Linked DNA regions of Homo sapiens: region 2 is reported to be linked to region 1. Evidence: microRNA targets listed by miRTarBase, many of them from high-throughput screens and not tested one by one. Region 1 holds a microRNA gene; the other region holds the end of a gene's coding sequence.
The links. The annotated mature microRNA hsa-miR-760 reads CGGCUCUGGGUCUGUGGGGA and lies in region 1 at 3,962-3,981, shown strand. An mRNA with a match to its seed (bases 2 to 7 or 8) in the 3' UTR can be bound and repressed. Matches are read on the target gene's strand: a 7mer-m8 pairs with bases 2 to 8, a 7mer-A1 pairs with bases 2 to 7 and ends in A, and an 8mer does both.

Region 2: miRTarBase lists FAM193A as a target of hsa-miR-760. Seed matches in the 3' UTR shown: 7mer-A1 at 825-831 and 7mer-m8 at 850-856.

What each region holds. Positions count from the first base shown.
Region 1 is chr1:93,842,919-93,850,036 of GRCh38, forward strand. It overlaps MIR760 (microRNA 760), which reads left to right and starts at 3,914; the gene lies at 3,914-3,993. TRR-TCT1-1 (tRNA-Arg (anticodon TCT) 1-1) reads left to right here and starts at 4,655; the gene lies at 4,655-4,739. It also overlaps a transcript of BCAR3 not described here. RefSeq lists enhancers at 3,205-3,334, 4,010-4,800, 5,015-5,064 and silencers at 3,465-3,524, 3,615-3,994, 4,175-4,314.
Region 2 is chr4:2,731,100-2,738,198 of GRCh38, forward strand. It overlaps FAM193A (family with sequence similarity 193 member A), which reads left to right. Exons shown (of 21, transcript NM_001366318.2): 21 at 676-1,474. The coding sequence ends at 769. Among named protein-coding and RNA genes, the nearest start is that of TNIP2, 22 kb to the right of the region's middle.

The DNA of each region.
Region 1 (7,118 bases):
ATTGGCCTGGCTCAGTAATCACACTCAGCACTGAGATATTTTAGGATGAAAAAGCCCTTCATTTCAATGTTGTGAGTAGATTTTAGGATGAAAAAGGCCTTCATTTCAACGTTGTGAGTAGATTTTTCTAGCAAGAAATGAGTCTTCTTAAGTCCTTAAGGGTGGATGGTACCCTTGTCTTGGGAAACCATGTGGTGGGTGGGACAAATGAAAATAAAAATGTGCCTAAGGTTCTTGAACTAAGAACTGTGAGGAATTGAAGCTGAAGGTAGATGTCTTCAGTCTGAGAAGCTAAGTGTTCTGTTCGGTAACAGAAATGAAATGTACAGCTGAGTAGGAGTGGGGTAGGGAGCTGCAGAATGTCCCTCCGGTTGCAACAAATTTAGCTGATGCTGTATCTGTACTGTCCTTTGTTTCTGCAGGATGTGGGATTTCTTTATTAAGAGCTACTTACTAATATAATAGCAAATATTTGTTACACACTTACCATGTGCCAGAACTGAGACAAGTCCTTGAGAGGATTAACTCTTGCAATTCTCATAACAATTTTATAATTTTTCAGGCAGAGAAGTTAAGGATCATGTCCTGCAAATAAAGGCTGAACCAAGATTTGAATGACAGGGTCCTGACTCCACAGGCTGTACTCTTAACTGCTACTACCACAGTTTTTGTTTGTTTGTTTTTTAAATCTCACCCTTTAAAAATTCCTTTTTAGGTATGTTTTATTAGTAGTATAATAGAGCATCCTGGTTCCTTGGGGGTCCAAACTGAAAAATTTTTACCGGTAGGAATGCCCAGTCACATTATGCCACTTTTTCACATGCTACCTTGCTTCATTTGCTTATTGCTTCATATTCATAAATCGTATTTCTCCTAGGAAATTTGGAGTGTCCTTGAAGGTAGGAATTATGTCTTAAACTTTCACTTGGTTCCCACAGTAGGCCTAACTGTATTGTCCCTACTCATTGAATTGAATAAAACTGGTACTCCAGCAACCTTATACCTCTGGAGTAAAGCAAAGCTAGTGCAAATATATACAGTAGAAGTATAGTCCATTTCCAGAGCTTCTGGGAAGGCCGAAATCACTAACCACACAGTAACTTAAAAATAATCCTGCTGGCCAGGCACGGTAGCTCACGCCTCACTTTGGGAGGCCGAAGCAGGCAGGTCACAAGGTCAGGAGTTCAAGACCTGCCTGGACAACATGGTGAAACCCCATCTCCATTAAAAATACAAAAATTAGCCGGGTGTGGTGGCACGTGCCTGTAATCCCAGCTACTTAGGAGGCTGAGGCAGGAGAATTGCTTCAACTCGGGAAATGGAGGTTGCAGTGAGCCAAGATCATGCCATTGCACTCCAGCCTGGGTGATAGAGTGAGACTCTGTCTCAAAATAAAAATAAAAATAAAACACCAACATGAAACCGTATTTAATTTAGGGCTTTGCTGTCCAGCGAACTCAAACTGCAGATGTGCTGCAATCAGCCTAATTGAAAGTGGTTATAACCCATGCTTTGACTCCCTCTGTTGGCAGGAAGAGGTTGCTTTCTCACTTGCGGGAATTCTTAGCTCAGGTTGTATAATGGCTGTTTACTACAGATACAGCCTGAGAAAATTCAGCCAGATTAGATAAGGGGAAGACAACACCCACTGAATCTTTCTCCCCAGATGGCAACTAAATACTCTTTTCATTTTTCTTACATGCTAACATTGCTACCTATAAACTGCTTAGTTAATTGTTCAGAGAACCACCACACACCTGACCTTGTTTGGCTGTGACTTTCTTCTTTTTTTTTTTTTTTTTCTTTTGGAGATGGGGTCTCATTCTGTCGCCCAGGCTGGAGTGCAGTGGCGCGATCATAGCTCACTGTAACCTCAAGCTCCTGGCCTCAAGTGATCCTCCCGCCTCAGCCTCCAGAAGTGCTGGAATTACAGGCGTGAGTCACTGCACCTGGCCCCAGTCTTCTAATTGCAGGGTATAAGAAGTACAACCTTGATAGCTCACAGAAGGCTGCACAGGGAAAGCCTGGCTTTCCCACACTGTCTGCTAACACTGTATCTCTAATATTTTCCATGATACAGGAATTTTTTTGGCTTCATCTAGTGGAATAAAATATCTAAAATTATTCGTTTGAATCATTAAGTGGAATCAAACACATACACATCTTTCCTTAGCACATTGTTTCTTTCCCAATTCCCCCTTTCCAGAATTTTTATATACGCATCTCAACTGTCACTTAATCACGTCAATGACTCCTCATCATTTGAGATTTGGCTCCAATACCCCAGGCAGAATTCCTCTGTATGGTTTTCCCACAGGCATACAGAGCATCTCTTCTCCCATTTCGGCTGTGAGCAACTCCTAAGACCAGTGGAGACCCTGAGATGCCACCAGTGCCTGGCATATTTCAGAATTCAAAAAAGATTTGTTTAAATAAATACAATTTAAAACCATATTCCATTTTAAAGGCTAATTTTATCCATATGAGAATTCTCCCTGCATGCAATGTGAAGACATTTAATTCATTAAAGGGGCATAACAATTTTATATATATATATATATATATATATATATATATATATATAAAACTTTGTTTACATTAGAGTATAATTAAATAGGCCTGGCACCAATCAGGGCTCTGCCACTTACTGTTTGGAGAAGCGATTCACAATTCGCATCCTTGCACGTTCTTCCTAGATGTGCCAAGAATGCAAGACCCTGATCACGCTTTACTTGGGCCATTTCTCAGCGTTGTGTTTGCAGCGAGCAATCTTGAGGGATGAGGTAATGTCTCCCTATGGAACAAAGAGCAGGCTTGCTTACTGCTCACTATAACATGGTGGGTTCCCCAAGCTCAGCATTCCTCTTCTGTAATGCAACCCATCTTGTGTGTAAGCATGCATCTGGGCCCGTGTGCTTCGTTCCTGTGAGAACTGGGGTCCAGGGAGCCAACTCAAAAATGGTGATACTCTGGCTATTGCTTTTGTTGTAATAGTCTTTTATCTCTGACTCAGAAGTCTGGTGTGTTCTGTCAGCATTCATGAAACCGTGAAAGCTAACGTGTTAGTTTGCAAACATAACAAAATATGATTCATCACAGTTCTCCACGCTCACTAGCTGGGCGTCCCTACACGAGTTTTTTAACCTCTCTTAGCTGCAGTTTCCCTTCTTTATATTATAAAGGGGACGGTGGTGTGTATGTACCCGCCCCATAGCTTCGTCTTGGGGTTAAGTAAGACTGTAAAATCCCTACCACACTGGACTCTTCCCAGGACTTCCCTTTCCCTCTTTGAACTCTGCCAGAGACTATTCTGCATTTGAGGCCTGGCGATGCTGGGCAGGGGCGGGTATGGGTGAAGCACAGGGTGGGCCGCGGCTGGCGGGTTTGGTGCAGAAACGGGCTGTGGCCGAGCCGAGAAAGCGCGCCCAGCGGCCGCCCTGCGAATCCTCCGTAGGCGGGGCCGGGACTGCTGTGAGCTAATAGGAACGGGGGCCGGGCGTTCGGTCTCGCCGCTGCAGTCGCAGAGCAACCACGCGGCTTTGACCGTCTATTTCAAAGGGCTTCGGGGTCTTGCGGATGGGGATCACTGCGGGCACTGGAAACCTGCCGGCCCCCACCCAGCCGCCTCTCAGATTCGTGGCGACCGCACCCTTCTGGGCAGCGGCGCCAGGCCCGCTGCCGTCCCCACCGCTCGCAGCCACCAGGAAACCCCGCGGCCGCGCTCGAGCGCGCGCCCTCCGACCACATGCACCCGCATACGCATGCTCCCAGCGCTCCCACGCGTGCTGACACCCTCCCGGCTTCCGCCCACGCAGTCGCGGGCCCCGGGCGCGCGGGCTCGGGGCAGCTGCGCGGCGTCCTTGGAGGCAGGTGCTGGCGGCAAGACGAGCTCTCGGAGGATGCTGCGGCGCGGGGCGCGTCGCCCCCCTCAGTCCACCAGAGCCCGGATACCTCAGAAATTCGGCTCTGGGTCTGTGGGGAGCGAAATGCAACCCAAACCCCGTTTTTCGAACCCCGCGCAAATAAACACGCACAAGCACGCACACAGACGTCGCGCGGCGGCGCTCGCGCGCAGGTCCAGCCGCGGCTGGGTCGGGCGCGGCGGCCGGGCGCGAGGGAAGAGCCCAGGCCCGAGAGGGGTCGCCGCTTACGTCTCGCAGCCCGAGGGGAGGCCGCTCGGCCTCGGCCGCTCACAGGCGCGACGTAAAGGCCCGGCGTCACCGGCCCGGCTTAACGGTGCAACGGCTGGCCTGGGCCTGCAACTCTGGGGTCCCGGCCGGGCTGGAGCGGCCGCCGGAGAGACCTGGTAGGCGGGGCGCTTGGGGCAGGAAGGGAGCCGGGGAGGGAAAAGCGCGACTGTGATTCGTACGGCTGGGCCCGGACCGTGAAGGGGACCGGGTTGCGGCTGCCCTCACACCGACCAGGTGGGACCGTCGGACTGCGGCCGCCCTTGGCTCAACTGGGTCGCCGACCTTGTTGAGGGGCGACCACTGCGGGGAGACCGAGAGCCTGCGGCTGGCGTTTGAGGCGGATGGCAGTGCCCTGAGCGCGGCGGCTGGGTCTCGGTGACACTGACGACGGGAGGCGCGGTCGGAAGAGCGCGGGGCCGTCGCCTCTGGCTTAACATAGCAGATGCGCTGAGACTCCAACAGGTGGCTCCGTGGCGCAATGGATAGCGCATTGGACTTCTAGAGGCTGAAGGCATTCAAAGGTTCCGGGTTCGAGTCCCGGCGGAGTCGTAACGCTTTTTTCCCTCCCCCCTACAATTTATTTTCTGCCTCCATCATGTCTCTTATTTTTTTTTTTTGCTAAACGGTTTAACTTCTCTCTCATTCCCTGCTCTCGCAGTTCACTGCATTCGGTTCTTGCGGTCCTTTCTTAAGCGGCTCGCAGGGTCCCGAGCCCCTCAGCTCCCCGGGCCTCGGTGGCCCAGGGCCCAGCTCAGCCGACTGGGCAGTCGATGTAGGTCCTGAGAAGAGCGGCGGCGGCGGCGGCGGCGGCGGCGAAGGAAAAGCGACACTGAAGCGAAGGCTCGCGGTTTCGGCCTAAAGGAAAGTGCAGGGGAGGCCCGGGTCTCGGGTGACACCCCCACGCCTTGAGCGGGACTGTGGTTGCGAGGGAGGGACGAGAAAACACGCCTACGCCCTGCGTGCGCTGTGCTGACTACCTCTCCAGCATGGAGGCTTCCAGATGAGCAGACACCCGAATCCCAGCGGGAGCCCGTCAAAAATGGAGATTTCTGCCGTCACTCTGGGACTCTTAATTCGGTCCGTCTGGGGTGGGGCCCAGGAATCTGCATTTCTGATAAGGTCACCCGCTCCCCTCCCCCATTATTCCAGTGCAAAGAGGTCCTAGGCCCAGTGCCCATCAGCTCCTCAAGACAGGAATTACTATATCTTTTTCTGACAACTGTTAACTTTGTACAAGGTTAGCAAATAAATCCAGGAATGAATGGAATCTTAAAACTCGTAAAACAACAATGAAAGGTAATTCACACAAAAGATACAAAATCCAAAATTGTCAAAAAAGATACAGGGAAAAGTAAACATCCATGTTATTCCTATAGTCCAGCCTTGCAATTCTCTCCACAAGCCATTAGTGGTAATGGTTTCTTGGAAATATTTTCAGATTTATTTTATGCCCATATCAGCATTTTTAACATCTTTTGTCATAAATATGTCGTAAATAACAATGTTATTGATACATATCCTTTTAAAAACACAATGGTAGTATGCTATACTGGCTTGTTTTACTTATGAATATATGTAGAGCTGCCTCGTTCCATTGTACGTATGTATGGTAATGATTTAACAGTCCCTAATAGCTGGACATTTAGATTGCCAGTATTTTCCTATTACAAACAATGCATCAGTGAACATCCTTGTTCTTTTATTATTGTACACAAGTACAGGTACATCTATCTGTAGGATAGATTCCTAGAAAGTTGAATTGCTGGTTCAAAGGTTTGTGCGTTCTTAATCTGTACATTTTTTAATATATATTGGCAAATTGCCCCATAGAGATTGTATCCATTTTTCTCTCCTTAGCAATGTGTGAGAGTGCCTGTTTCCCCACAACTCACAAAAGGTGGTTTCTAGCTGTGATTTTAATTCGTCTCTTATATTGATTTTTTAAAATTTGTATTTATATTATTATTATTATTATTTGAGACAGGGTCTTGTTCTGTTGCCCAGACTGGAGTGCAGTGGCACTATCACAGCTCATTGCACCCTCAACGTCCTGGGCTCAAGCAGTGCTTCCACCTCAGCCTCCCAAATAGTTGGAAGTACAGGCACATGCCAACACACCCGGCTAATTTTAAAATTTTTTGTAGAGATGGGGGTCACTCTATGTTGTCTAGGCTGGTCTTGAACTCCTGGACTCAAGAAATCCTCCCATCTTGGCCTCCCTAAGTGCTGGGATGACAGACAGGAGCTACTACGCCTGGACTGTGTCTTTTATTATGAATCAAGATGAGTACCTTTCCATACAGAGAATAATTTGTAATTTTTTTCCTGTGATTTATCTGTTCTTGAGTTGTGTTCATTTTTCTGTGGTATGATGGAAAACAGCCCTTTGTGATATATGTTACACTTATTCTTTTTCAGTCTTTTTGTCGTTTGACTTTGTTTATGGTATTTTGTTTTGTTTTTCTGTCTTACAGAAATTCATGATTCATGTATTTGGATTTATCAGTCTTTTATGGCTTCTAGGTTTGGGGCCATAATACACTCAGATTATTAAGTTATTTCTTTAATGGCTTTATTTTTATGGTTTTGTTTATCTTTGCTTCATCTGGAATGTGTTTTTGTATAAGGAGTGAAGTGGAAGTTTTGTCCCAAAATCACTTTTAATGAACACTCCTTCTTTTCTACACGATGTCATTTGAAATGCCACATTTATAATTTTTTTTTTTGAGACAGAGTCTTGCTCTGTTGCCCAGGCTGGAGTGCAGCGGCACAAATCTCAGTTCACTGCAACCTCCACCTCCCAGGTTCAAGCAATTCTCTTGCCTCAGCCTCCTGAGTAGCTGGGATTACAGGTGCATGCCACTACGCCCGGCTAATTTTTGTATTTTTAGTAGAGACGGGGTTTCGCTATGTTGGCCAGGCTGGTCT
Region 2 (7,099 bases), not on the chromosome of region 1:
GCAGGAGAATCACTTCAACGTGGGAGGCGGAGGCTTCAGTGAGCTGAGATTGTGCCATTGCACTCTAGCCTGGATGACAAGAGCGAAACTCCTTCTCAAAAAAAAAAAAAAAAAAAAAAAAAAAACCGGTGTGGTGGTACATGCCTGTAGTCCTAGCTACTTGGGAGGCTGAGGCAGAGAATTGCTTGAACCTTGGAGGTGGAGGTTGCAGTGAGCCGAAACTGCCACTGAACTCCAGCCTGGGCAAGAGAGTGAGACCCTGTCTCAAAAAAAAAAGGATTTCACCATGTTGCCCAGGCTGGTCTCGAACTCCTAAGTTGAAGTGATTTGCCCTCCTCAGCCTCCCAAAGTGCTGGGATTACAGGTATGAGCCACCACACCCTGCCTGGGCCTGATAATTTAAGGGCGCTCACAGCTCTCAGATTAAACGTTTCTTTTCTTTCTCAGGACTCCTTCCGCCCACCCATTCCTCCTCCCGAGTCCTTTCCCCTTCTCAAGTGCAGCCTGTAGCAGGGCCTGGAGGGGACCCTTGACACTGTGCCCCTCACCGAGAATCTAAACCCCTGACCCCGCAGTGAGTTTCTGGCAAGAACAGGAGTGTGATGGGCTTTGCCAAGCACCAGCTTGGTTGTGGGCTGTTTCCTTCAGTGACTGTTTGGCTTTTTGTCTTTGCAGGTTCTGCTTGGATTCTGCTAGACAGACCCGACAAAGACTGTCTATCAACTGGTCCAATTTTAGCTTGAAAAAAGCCACCTTTGCTGCCCACTGAATGAGGACTCCCTGGAGAGGGACACGCGAGAGGCAGGCCAGGCTGCACCACCCCAAGAGCCACGCCCCTCGCTGGCGCCCCAGAGCCGTGGTGCTTGCCAAGGGCTGTGCGGAGCTGGTGCTGCCTGAAACCCCAGACCGAGAAGTTGATGCTCGGCCCACGCCGTTAGCTCGTGTGCGTGTAGTCTGTGCGTGAGACTCCTTCGATTGTAGCTCTGTGCTGTCGGATTGGAACAGTAGTTCCCGCCAAGTCCTCCCACCACCGCGGCCTCGGAGGCCTGGGCCGTGGCCAGATAGGAGTTTGCATCATCCACGTGGCTCCGTTGCCTCTGCATTGCGCCCTGTCCTGTCATGTGTCCTCACCGGGGTATCGGCCGTCACTCAGCTCTCCTGTGCCCCTGCGTCTCACCCTAGGCGGGCTGGGCGGGGCAGGCCTCCTTTGTTCTCCACAATCTACTGTCTCCGAGTGTACACGTTGCGCTGTTTGTGTTTGATCCCCCTGACTTGTAGCCAGCTTGTGTAAGATCCCTTGCAGAACGAGAAAGTTAAAAACAAGCCCACCCAGTACTCACACCATCAAGTCTGTTATAGAGTGTACGACTGTATTAACACGGAGGCCTGCCTGGCTACTTTTTTAACATATTGTTAAGTAATATTAAAATCATGTCTTTCTTTTTGAAAGATGGAATACATTAGTACAGCAGGAGACCTCGGCTGCTTCTTTCTGCTGGGGGAGTGGGGGGATAGCGGGAGAGGGCGTGTAGGTGATGTGTCCGCCATGGGGAGCCAGGGCACCACCCCGGAGCAGGTCCCAGGTCTCTCCAGGCAACGGCTCACCCATCCTGGTGCCCCCACCATCCTCTGTGTGCCAGGCAGAGCAGGCAGCAGGAGACAGAAAGCTCCCAAGGAGCTGCATCCTGGTTACTTCTTACTACCTAGAACACTCAGTAGCTCCCACTTCTCCCAGCCTCATGTTCAGCCTGTCTCTGTGTGCCCTATCAGAGTATGACTTCACTCTGAGTGAAGGTGAATAGGGCAGGGCCTGGTTGGGGAGAGGGTAGGGAGAGCCAGCTTCTGGAGGTATTCGGACGATGAGGCCACAGGATTTCCTGGTGGACAGGATGCAGGTAGGAGAAAGAGGTGAAGACCTGCGCTGTGTGCCTGGAGGTGGGACTGGAGACCAGTTCTGGATGGTGAGTCTGGGATGTCCACCGGCCACCCAGGTGAGAGGTCTGGAACTGGGGACTGCTGTTCATGGACAGAGCCTGTGTGAGGGCCCTGCAGGGGTGAGTAGATGGGATGGGGGCCCGAGCTGTGGAACCAGGAAGGCAGAGGAGGGTGAGGAGGCTTCGAGGCAGGTCAGGGGAGACAAGGCCCAGGGCACCCCCACCCAGGCACCGGTTTGCAGGAGAATGAGGTGGGGACAGCAGGTCCTAGAACTCTGGAGATTGCACGAAAGCTGGAAAAGGGTCACCAACCAGGGGAGGTGCAGCACGACGAACTTTCCTCACTTGTTTTTTTTTCCAGGTGTGAGGAAGAGAACGTTCCTTTGTTCGTGGGATGATAGGGCAGAGAGTGAAGCAGGTCAGGCCATGACCACGGCAACAGTAGTGTCCTTGAAACCCCAGTGCAGGCCCCCGGGACTCCAGCCGCTGCCTCTTCTGGCTGCGGTGGTGGCTGGGGAAAGGCCCAGGCCCGGGCCTCGCCCTATGGGGAAGCTGCCTGCCCAGGCCCCCAGTACCTGCCCTGCTCTCCCCATGGACAGCCTTTAACACTGTGCTGAACCATGCCTGTTGCTGAGGGGAACTGCACAGCCCTGAGTGGTGATGGGGAACTCTGGGTGCCCCGACACACTAAGCATCATGCTGGGACCTAGAGACCCTCAGACGCCCACCGCACATGCCCAGTTCTGGGCACTCCCATCACCTCCATGGCAACCCTGCCTGCGGCTTCACAGCTCTGCCCGCTCTGGCCCCTGACCTGCACCTGCTAGCTTTGGCCCTCAGGCTCCCAGCCATTGTCCTGGCCATGCCCTTGCCAGGAAGGATCTTCCTCTATTTCCCTGGAAACCACTCATCCTTCCAGCATCCCAGGGTGCTTATAGGACATCCAGCTCCAGGGTCCCTGACTTGATGGGAGCCCCTGGGGTTCCTGATGACATCACTTCCCTGTGGGGGAGGGTGGGGCCGCCATAGGGGAGCCTCACATTTTTGACTCACACAGTAGCACAGGGTGAGTATCCCTTATCCCTTATCTGGCATCCTCAGTACCAGAAGTGTGTCCAGTTTCAGACTTTTTTGGATTTGGAGTATTTACATCATGCTTACCAATTGAGCATTTCTAATCCAAAAATCTGAAATCCAAAATGCTCCAATGAGCATTTCCTTGGAGCATCATCTTAACACTCAAAAGGATTTGAATTTTGGAACCTTTCGGGTTAGGCATACTCAACCTGTAATAGTCATGAAATGAAACAATAACAATAGTTAGAAAGGAAACTTTAACAGTGAACAGTTGTATTGAGAAGCTTACTGTTTTCTGCACCCTCAGCTCTGAGCCCTGCTCAGAGATTTTGCCTGGGTAGAGAAACAGGCAGTAAAACAGATAGCTCCTAATCTCTTCCCAAAGAAACTGACTTTGTTTGCAACAAAGAATGAAGAGGTTCAAGCCTGAAGGCACTCAGAAACAGTGGAGGCCATGAAACCCTGGGAAGAGAGACAAGATGCAGGCTCAGCTACAGGCCAGATAGTTTGCAGGAGGTAACTGAAGAAAAGAGCTGGGAGAAGGCATCCAGGGGTCAGAAGGAATATCACACAGTGTTCCCAGAAACTCTCTCTTCAAAGGAGTCAGAATTTGATTGGATTTGTTTGTAGAGCATGGTGCCCCAGGGCATTGTTGAAAACAATAGAATTGGCAATTAGTGGTTTAATGAATGTGGTCAGGGAAAGAGGAAGAGAACTCTACCAAAATGACTGTCATCCCAGGGTGACTGTGGGCATACGCAAAGCTACACACCCTGAGGAGCAACATCATAGCTGGAATACTAGTGGGTAGTAGAAAGAAAACAATGATATAATAAGGCTGCATCAAATGAATATAGAAATTATTTTAAAGGAACCAAATGGAAATTATGGAATCTGAAAAGTTACGTGTGTATATATATACACACACATATATATACACACACACATATATATACACACACACAGAGAGAGACAGATGGAGTCTTGCTCTGTCACCCAGGCTGGAGTGCAGTGGCACCATTTTGGCTCACTGCAACCTCCAACTCCTGGGTTCAAGTGATTCTCCTGTCTCAGCCTCCGCAGTAGCTGGGACTATAGTTACACACCACCATGCCTGGCTAATTTTTGTATTTTTTGTTGAGACGGTGTTTCACTGTGTTGGTCAGGCTGGTCTCAAACTCCTGACCTCAGGTGAGCTGCCCACCTTGGCCTCCCAAAGTGCTGAGATTACAGGCATGAGCCACTGCACCCAGCCTAAATTTTAAAATTAGCAGAAGGAAAAATAAGTGGATTTGAAGATAGGCTGATGGAGATTATGCCAGCCAAAGAACATAGAGAAAAAAATAATGAAAATAAAGAGTCTCAGAAAAATGTGGGACACCATTAAGCATACCAGCCTATGTATAATGGGAATATCAAAAGGAGAGCAAAGAGCAAAAAAAATATTCAAAGAAATAATAGTCGAAAACCTCCCAAATTGAAAAATAGTAACATGTATCCCAGAAGTTGAAAATGTTTATATTAAGAAACAAGAAAGATCTCACTCAAATCAATAAACTAACTTGTCACCTTAAGACACTGGAAAAAGAGCAAACTAGGCCTAAAGTAAGCAGAAGGAATAAAATCATAAAAATTAGATCAGAAATTAATGAAATAGAGGATGCAAAAATAATGGAGAAAATCAACAAAACCAAAAGTTTTAAAAAGGTAAACAAAATAGACATCTGTAGCAAGATTGACCAGGGAAGGATTCAAATTACTAGAATCAGAACTGGCCACACAGAAAAAGGATTTTAAAGGAATACTAGAACAATTATATGCCAGCAAATTTGGTAATTTAGATGATATCTTAGTCCATTCATGCAGCTATGACCAAATATCACAGACTGAGTAATTTATAAATAATAGAAGTTTATTTCTCACAGTTCTGGAAGCTGTGAAGTTCAAGAGCAAAGTGCACCAACAGATTCAGTGTCTGGTAAGGGCTCACTCTCTGCTTCCAAAGTGGCACCTTGTTGCTGTATCTTCATATGGTAGAAGGGCAAAAAGGGGAATTAAGGTGATCCCTTCAACCTCTTTTATAAAAGCTGTAATCCCTTTCATGATGATGGAGCACTCATGATTTGAACACTTCCCAGAAGGCCCCACCTCTTAATACTATCACCTTGGGCACTAAGTTCTAACATATGAACATATAAACCATAGCAGATGAGATGGACAAATTTCTAGACAGGAAGAAGCTACAAGAACTGACTCCAGAAGAAATAGACAATCTGAATAGACCTATAATGAGTGAAGATGTTGAAATAGTAATTTAAAACAGGGAAAAGTACCCACAAAAGCTCAAGCCTAGAAGTCTTCACTGCTGCATTTTACCATACAGTTAGAGAAGAATTAAAACCAATTTTTCAAACTTTCAGAAATAGAAGAAGGAACACTTCCCAACTAATTCTGTGAGGCCAGTATTACCTTGATACCAAAACTAGACAAAGACATCACAAGAAAACTACAGACTATTATCTCATGAATATTGATGCAAAATTCCTCAACAAAATACTAGAAAACCAAATCCAGCAATATAAGAAAAGAAATATACACCGTGATCAAGTGGAATCCCAGGAATGTAAGGGTGGTTCAATATCCAACACATACTTAATGTAATCATATTAATCGAAATTTTAATTGCATGATCATCTCAATAGATGCAAAAAAAGCATTTGACAAAATCCAACACTTTTGCATAATAAAGACATTTCACCAAGTGTGAATAGAAGAGAACTTCCTCAACCTGAAGAATGACATCTACAAAAAATTCACTGTTAATATCATCCTTAATGTTGTGAAAGACCGCATGCTTTCCCCCTAAGATCAGGAACAAGGCAAAGATATCTGTTTTGCAGTTTCTATTCAACATTGTGCTAGAGGTTCTAGCCAAAGCAGTTAGGCCCAGGCAGGCGGATCACGAGGTCAGGAGTTCAAGACCAGCCTGGCCAACATAGTGAAACCCCATGTCTACTAAAAATACAAAAATTAGTTGGGTGTTGTGGTGCGCACCTGTAGTCCCAGCTACTTCGGAGGCTGAGGCAGGATAATCACTTGAGCCCCGGAGGCGGAGGTTGCAGTGAGCTGAGATTGCCACTGCACTCCAGCTTGGGCAACAGAGCAAGACTCTGTCTCAAAAAAAAAAAAAAATTTCAGCTGGGCATGGTGGCTCAAGCCTGTAATCCCTGCACTTTGGGAGGCTGAGGCAGGTGGATCATGAGGTCAGGAGATTGAGACCATCCTGGCTAACATGGTGAAACCCCGTCTCTACTAAAGATACCAAAAAAAAAAAAAAAAAAAAAAAAAAGCCCTGCATGGTGGCAGGCGCCTGTAGTCCCAGCTACTCGGGAGGCTGAGGCAGGAGAATGGCGTGAACCCGGGGGGCGGAGCTTGCAGTGAGCCGAGATCATGCCACTGCACTCCAGACTGGGCAACAGAGTGAGACTCTGTCTCAAAAAAAAAAAAAAATTTTTTTTTCAGGGAACTTCTATCTCAGTAAACTTTCTAGGGCTCCCGTGGTGTGGGGCCTGTCAAGATATTCCTTCCAAGGTGAAGGATAAGTCGCCTCATTTGGTCCCTCCTACAACCAAGAAGATCCACAATGCTTAGTGGGTCTATTTGGATTTTGGAGGCAACACATTCCTCACTTAGATGTGTTACTCCAGCCCATTTATCTAGTGACCTAAAAGGCTGCCAGTTTTGAGTGGGGTCCAGAACAGGAGAAGGCTCTGCAACAGGTCCAGGCTGCTGTGCAAGCTGCTCTGCCACTTGGGCCATATGACCCAGCGATCCAATGGTGCTTGAGGCGTCAGTAGCAGATAGGGATGCTGTTTGGAGCCTTTGGCAGGCCCCCATAGGTGAATCACAGTGGAGGCCTGTAGGATTTTCACCCCATAGGTGAATCACAGCGGAGGCCTGTAGGATCTGGAGAAGATGGCCCTGCCATCTTCTGCAGCTAACTACTCTCCTTTTGAGAGACAGCTCTTGGCCTGTTACTGGGCTTTGGTGGAAACTGAATGTTTGACTATGGGTCATCAAGTCACCAT